Linked DNA regions of Homo sapiens. The main gene of each other region encodes a partner of the protein of the gene in region 2 in a complex. Each region holds a gene or a part of one and is shown on either strand. Other genes may lie near its edges.

The links. Proteins that work in one complex are often made in the same cells at the same time.
Region 1: the proteins of PRKCE (region 2) and YWHAZ are in contact, whole or in part, in a crystal structure (PDB 2WH0), measured with the Homo sapiens proteins. Residues at the interface, in NP_005391.1 of Homo sapiens: Lys365, Ala366, Leu367, Ser368, Phe369, Asp370, Asn371, Arg372; in NP_001129171.1 of Homo sapiens: Asn42, Ser45, Val46, Lys49, Arg56, Lys120, Arg127, Tyr128, Gly169, Leu172, Asn173, Val176, Glu180, Leu216, Leu220, Asp223, Asn224, Leu227, Trp228.

The regions. Positions count from the first base shown.
Region 1 is NC_000008.11:100,945,521-100,949,020, forward strand, and holds part of YWHAZ (14-3-3 protein zeta/delta), read right to left. Parts: intron 3,381-3,500; 5' UTR 3,370-3,380; coding exon 3,076-3,369; intron 1-3,075.
Region 2 is NC_000002.12:46,179,675-46,183,174, forward strand, and holds part of PRKCE (protein kinase C epsilon type), read left to right. Parts: intron 1-3,500.

The DNA of each region.
Region 1 (3,500 bases), on a different chromosome or scaffold from region 2:
TATCAAAGCCCAGAAAAGGCTGGAGTAATAAAAAATTATAATTGATTTTTTATCATGTAAGATCTTAAAAATATAATTTAAAATATTTTTACTAATCATTAATAATGATTCAATAACTTTTTCTAGTAGAAATATCAGTTCTGCTACATTTTATTCTTCCATCTCACAGAAAGGGCAGAAGGAATTTTATGCAATATGTTTCCAGAGTCGATGTGACCTATTTGAAAAAGATGGTAGGAAAAAGAAGCCTATTATCGGTAAATATCAAATTTTCCCAAGCAGAAAAAGAAAAAGCTAGGGAAATTTTGCAGTGCTGCTGACCTAATTCTATGCTCTTTCTCTAAAGAAGCCTTTCTGCTTGTTTAACAAATATTTGAGCATCTATTACACGTTGAGTATGCAAAGATCACTAAGTCTTACTCCTGAAAAGACCAAGGCTGGAAGCAAAAGCTTGTTTAGAATTCTCTTCAAAGCCATTTGTATAGTAAAGAAATTAAACTCTCATTTATCCAAACTTTCAAAGTGTAAATACCATTAAAACTTTTTGGGAAGCCAGTGCTATTCTGGAGGGTAACGATGTGGGTAGGGACCAGAGTGAACTTCCTTAATAATCATAACAAGAAGAAACTATTTATATGAAGAGATTATCTTGTTATCCTCATCTACTGGTTCTATGCAAACAAAGTTTCTTCATAAGGAAACTAAAGGGAAGCATAGTCAAAACTGCTACAAGTTGGGCTGGACGTGGTGGCTCACTCCTGTAATCCCAGCACTTTGGGAGGCCAAGGCGAGTGGATCACCTGAGGTCAAGAGTTAGACGTGACCTGGTCACCAGCCTGGCCGACAAGGTGAAACCCCATCTTTACTAAAAGTACAAAAATTAGCTGGGCGTGCTGGTGCACGCCCAGTAATCCCAGCTACTCGGGAGGTCAAGGCAGAAGAATTGCTTGAACACGGGAGGCGGAAGTTGCAGTGAGCTGAGATGGTGCCATTGCACTCCAGCCTGGGTGACAAGAGCAAAACTCAGTCTCAAAACAAACAAACAAACAAACATACACAAAAAACAAACCTGCTACAAGTCTTTTCCTTGGAAAAGACTCACAATGACAGGAACTTTTATACTTTGTATATGGAAAACATGCACATACCTACCTGGTATTGCAAATAAGCGTGTTAGTAAAAGGTAAATGTTACATTCCTTTTTATTCCTAAAATTGACTTTTGTCTTAAGGGAAATGTTAATGTGTAACACACCCTTTGAAGCCAAAATAAAAACTTTTCGATCAGGTGTAATAATTGGGAAAAACACTCCAGACTGAACAAAACTGAATTACACATACACAGATATTAGTTAGTAAGGTGAGCAAAAAAAAAAAACAAAAAAAACAAAAAAACCCAATACATTTTTTATTATAGAAAAAAAAAATCACATTTTCAAAATTTAAATATTTGGCCGGGCGCGGTGGCTCAAGCCTGTAATCCCAGCACTTTGGGAGGCTGAGGAGGGCGGATCACGAGGTCAGGAGATCGAGACCATCCTGGCTAACATGGTGAAACCCCGTCTCTACTAAAAATACAAAAAAATTAGCCGGGCGCAGTGGCAGGCGCCTGTAGTCTCAGCTATTCGGGAGGCTGAGGCAGGAGAATGGCGTGAACCCGGGAGGCGGAGCTTGCAGTGAGCCGAGATCGCGCCACTGCACTCCAGCCTGGGCAACAGAGCAAGACTCCGTCTCAAAAAAAAAAAAAAACAAAAAACAAAATTTAAATATTCTTATTACCTTAGCAAAATCACAAAACAGACATTTGTCACTTGGCCCCAATAAAAGCAAGATATTCCTTTTTTCAACTTAGATACAAATAGTAGCTATCATTCTAAAGGTTTCAATAAGCAAAGAACAAAAAAATGCCCCAAGACAGATGCCTCATTGAGTTTGTGGCTGTGAACCCAAATAAGCATGTTTAAAAAATCACTATTCTTTAAAAAGACAGTGTCAAGTAAGTATCATTTGAGAAAATTACAGTTTAGGAACTGATGCTATTCCATTAGTAAATACAAATGTAAAGAAATGATAGTATCATCACAACTTTAACAAAAACCCCAAACCCACAACCACATCAGACATTATCCTATTGCTCATTATAGCACTTCTTCCATAAACAAGGTTCATATAGTAAGTAACAAACCTGGATTTCCATACTGAGTTCCAGATTCAGTAATCTGTCCAGAAAAATCGAGATGCTGCCCCTCTTTGTATATCAGAGCCCTTCCATACTGGTTAAGTGTAACCATTTAGTAAAACCACTTTAAATATTATTCCAAAAACTGCCAGCTTGGTTGGATTCTCTACTGGTTTATCCTCAAATTTAAACTATTCTTGATCAAAAAGCCCTACTTTATATGACAGATTAAAATTAACCAAAATGTAGTTTAATTCTTTTAAGCGCAGTGCTTCAACACAGTAAGTACTGAATACTTAAAATACTCGATTCAAACTGGAAAATCAAGCTTGAGTTGTTCATAACCTTTCATCATGGTTGTGAGTGTTCAAAATTTACCTTCAAGAATTCAATGCAGGAAGAGGTTTCATAGTTGTGACGCCAGAGTTTTCTGCATGGTTGACTCATTACATTAACATTATAGCGGCTAATCCTGAGAAGAGTACTATTTCTACAATGAGTATCCTATTACATCTCTCTTACCTAAAGTATGTAAAATTCCTTTATCCACAGATGTACATTTAAGATAACCAGCTATAGAGCTACTACAAATATTCTAACCATAAGTAAAACAGTAACACAATTAGTTTATATTTTCAATTAATATAAAATACAATACTAAAGTCTGTTATTTTTAACAAAACTGAACTGTTTCATAATCATTGTTGCAATTATTTTACATACACGTATCTATAATTGTCTTAACATCTTTTTAGTCATGACACCATGAAGACTTTTAAATTTGGAACACACAATGTTTAGAAGGAAAAGAAAAACCAAACAAAAAGTTAAGAGTAATGTAACTGATACTCATAGGGACCCTACAGTATAATGAAGCCAGACTGAATTGATTCTCACCAGTACATCATTGCAGATATCTCTTAGCTCCGTCTCAATTTTCTCTCTGTATTCTCGAGCCATCTGCTGTTTTTTCTCAGCACCTTCCGTCTTTTGTTCAATACTTGAGACGACCCTCCAAGATGACCTACGGGCTCCTACAACATTTTTATAAGCAACTGAGAGAAGATTCCTCTCCTCATTGGATAATTCAGCTCCTTGCTCAGTTACAGACTTCATGCAGGCTGCCATGTCATCATATCGCTCAGCCTGCTCGGCCAGTTTGGCCTTCTGAACCAGCTCATTTTTATCCATGACTGGATGTTCTGCAGGGGGGAAAAAAGGAGTATTTAAAATTTTTCCCATCAAAATAAACAGACTCAAAATTATACCTGTGGTAAATGAGTTTTTTAAACCTGAAACCTAACTGCCTGTGAAAGACTGTT
Region 2 (3,500 bases):
TTTGTTTCTATCTTGTGTCAGCAATTAGAAAACTCTAGTGCCCCAAGTCCTGGGAGAAGAAATTTCATTAATTGGGCCTAAGCCTACCTGTTTTGCAGACCCCATGGGCCTAGTGATGGTCTGGGATGCCTGGCTCTAGGCCCTTCATGAATCAGACTACAGCCATCCCCCCCAACTCCCTGCCTCCACTTCCCAAAATCAAAACACCCCCTGACAGCACAGCAGCCCCTGACCCTGAACCCAGATCACGTTACTGGCTCTAGATAAAGTAGCAGCAAGAGAGGTGCATTTATTAATTTTTTCTAGCAGATATCTATGGAGTATGCAGTATGTGCCAGGCATTGTGCTAGGCTGGGGATAGAATGGTGAGTTCAACCCAGTCTCTGCCTGCAAGGAGCTCATAGATTAGTTGAAAAGAAGAGGCCTCCTCAGTGTGGTGAGTACTAAGTTAGGAGAGATGGTGAGGGCACCCACAAGAAGCTTTGCTCAAGCAGCCCTGGAGGGATGAGGAGGGTTCCTGAAGAAAGGGCATGTACATGGAGGTGGGGAAATTGCATGGATGTGGGGCAGAAGGCAGGGATAGGGGAGGGCATTCCAGGTAGAGGGCTAGCTATGCAAGGCTGGAGGCAAGAGAAAGCAGGAGGAAGCCCCATGGTTGGGCAGTGCCAGGGAGATGAACCTGGGGGATGAGGCAAGGACAAGCTCCTGAAGGGCCTCAGAAGCAGGTGAGCGAAAGAACTCAGGACTTTACCCCAAAAGCCGTGATGTGCAATGAAGCATCTCAATTGCTGGAGGAAGCACTAGGATGTTCAGGCAGGCCCAGGCTCAGTCCTAGTTCAGGATTTGGAGGCACAGAAAGAAAGGTAAGACTCAGCCCCTAACTTCAGGAAACTCACTGATGGGCAGATACCATGCACTGTGTTGGGAAACAACCAAGCTGTGCATGATGCATGCCCATGGCACACGAATGCTAAGATTTGAAGGCATGATGGGAGCTATCATTTATTGAGTGCACTCTGTATGCCAGGTTCTGCAGAAGGAACCTAATATCACATCTCACTCAGTCCTCAAGGAAACCTATAGTGTGCCTGTTACCACCCCCGTGTGACAGATGGAAAGACCACGGCTTAAAGAGGTTAACTTCACAGCGTCAATAACCAGGAAAGGATGGCACCAGAATGAGCTCAGCCGGTGATCTTCCTCCTACTCTATTCAGCCTTCCCTAAGTGTGGGCCAAAGGTTGTAGAAAAGGCTTCACGGATTAGGAAGGGACTGGCGAGTTAGAATGTTGTTCCCTGTGTCCCACTGTCATCTCTCAGGCTCTGCAGTGGGGGCCAGGAGCCTGACATTTAGGCATTAGGGGAGGCAGGGATGACTGAGGATCAGGATAAACAAGTGTCTCTGAGAGCCTGCCCCTCAGAATCTTTAAGTCGAGTCCAGTGCCTGCTCTGTGCGGGAGGTAGCAGCTTTTCAAAGAATAAAATCAGCGAGTAAAGAATATAATCTGCAGTTCTTTGCAAATTTGACGATGCTGTGCTGCCTACATACCATTAATAGGGGATGGGTTTTCCCAGAGATGTTTGCTTTGGAAAACTCCCAAGCCTCTACTGTTAACAGTTAGAGATTGCACATAGTGGGGATGGTTATTTGAATTAGAAATGGGTAACTCACATGCACCTGAAATGTCTCCAAGTAAAGTAGGGTAGGGGCCAAGTTGTATAAGGAGATGGGTGAGCCAAGTCTGTAACGATCATGAAGAATGGCATACTCTCTCAAATGCCACAGATGATTCTGGAACCTCAAGAATCTCAGAGCTGAGCTAAATGGCTCTCCAAGATAGCCCACCATGGAGCTAAGGTCCTCTGGAATGACACCACTAGCAGTATTGACTGAGCCTGGTTCCCTGATTCACAACAGCAAGTCGTGAAATTCAGACATCCTGTAGGATCTAGCTTTACCACTATGCTCAGTTGACCTCAAGAAATGAAACCAGCTTCCATGATTAACAGACACTAATGACCAACAGGTGAAACACAATCAGGTAAATGGGGAGAGCCAGTGCCAGAGGGCTTACAGATTTTCTGAAGTTCTTCATACACAGGTTCCCCTCATTAGCAGCCATCTGGGAGGGAGCTGGGGATGATTCTGAAACCTGGAGAATCCCGGTCACTATATCATACATTAGTTGAAAAGAGGGAGCCTCCTCAGTGTGGTGAGTGCCAAGTTAGGAGAGATGGTGAAGGCATCTCCTGCCTACACGCCTTGTACAGCCAGCCCTCTGCCTGGATTATACCGGTCTACCACATACCTGGGCAAGGCTCGTCCTTAGTGACGTTACAAATGGAATATTCTTCTTGCCCTATTCCTTGACTCTCTTTTTCTCCTTACTGCCACCCCTACTACTCCATTATCCCCTTCGGCTCCAGCTCCCCCGGCGTGGATGCTCCTGGCTTGCCTTCTGGGATGATACCCAGGGCTTCCCTAATTGTTGCCACAGCCTACCCAGCCCGCTCCTCCCTCTGGACTGACTCACTTCGCCAGGCACAGAGGGCCCATAGCCTGCAATCCTCCCCAGTCAGTGAATCCCTCCCCCTTCCACAGAGATCTTCAGAAGAGGTGTCGCCACACCCTTTGCCCAGGCGCCACCCTCCCGCGTCAGTGTGCGTCACCGTGGGGATGGTCTTTGTTGTTTCCCTCTCAAGCAGGGCCCTCCTTTTCCTCTTGTTCTGTACACACTGGAGAGGGAGAACAGATGGTCCTCCTGCCGGGGGCCAGCCCTCCTGGCAGAGGTGACCAAACCACCCGGCTTTCCCATCTCAGGGGCATCATGGACACCCCTCAGCTATAGGTTCTGTTTCTGGGGATCCCTTGGGTTTTCTGTGTGTCCCCCCCTTCCCCCTTCCAAGGTCTCTGAGACCTGCTGACCTATGCAGCTCAAGCCCAGAGAGAAGACACCAGGCAGGACTGGTGGTGCTAAAAGATGGTAGAAATCAGTTTGTCCCTCCTCCGTGCTGTTTGTGATTTTGATTTCAACCTGGGACGAGTTGAAAACAGTCCCCCGCGCAGCTCACCCGGCCCACGTTACCCACTATCTTCCCGGACTCACAGCTGTCTCCACCCATGCTTGCCTACTGGCAGGCCTTTCCGGCTTTATTTTGCCTAGTGGTGTTACCAAAATGTCTCCTGGTTGAACTTGACTCTTGTTATATCTTCCAATTTCTCCCGTGTCCAGATTTCCAGACCTTACCCACTGTGGAAGGCATCACACTGAAGCCCAGACATGAGTTCTGGGTCTGCTCTTACCCAGTCCAGTGACCCTGGGAAAGTCAACAAACCTCTCTGAGCCAGTTTCCTCATCTGCAGGATCAGGATGTTACCAGCCTGTTCTGAGGATCAAATGAGCGAATAAATGCAAAGATTCTTTGTAAACTGTAAACCAACATTCTCCAAACTGCATTCTGCAGACCCTGCTCTCAGGAGAGGTGTTCATAAACTATTTA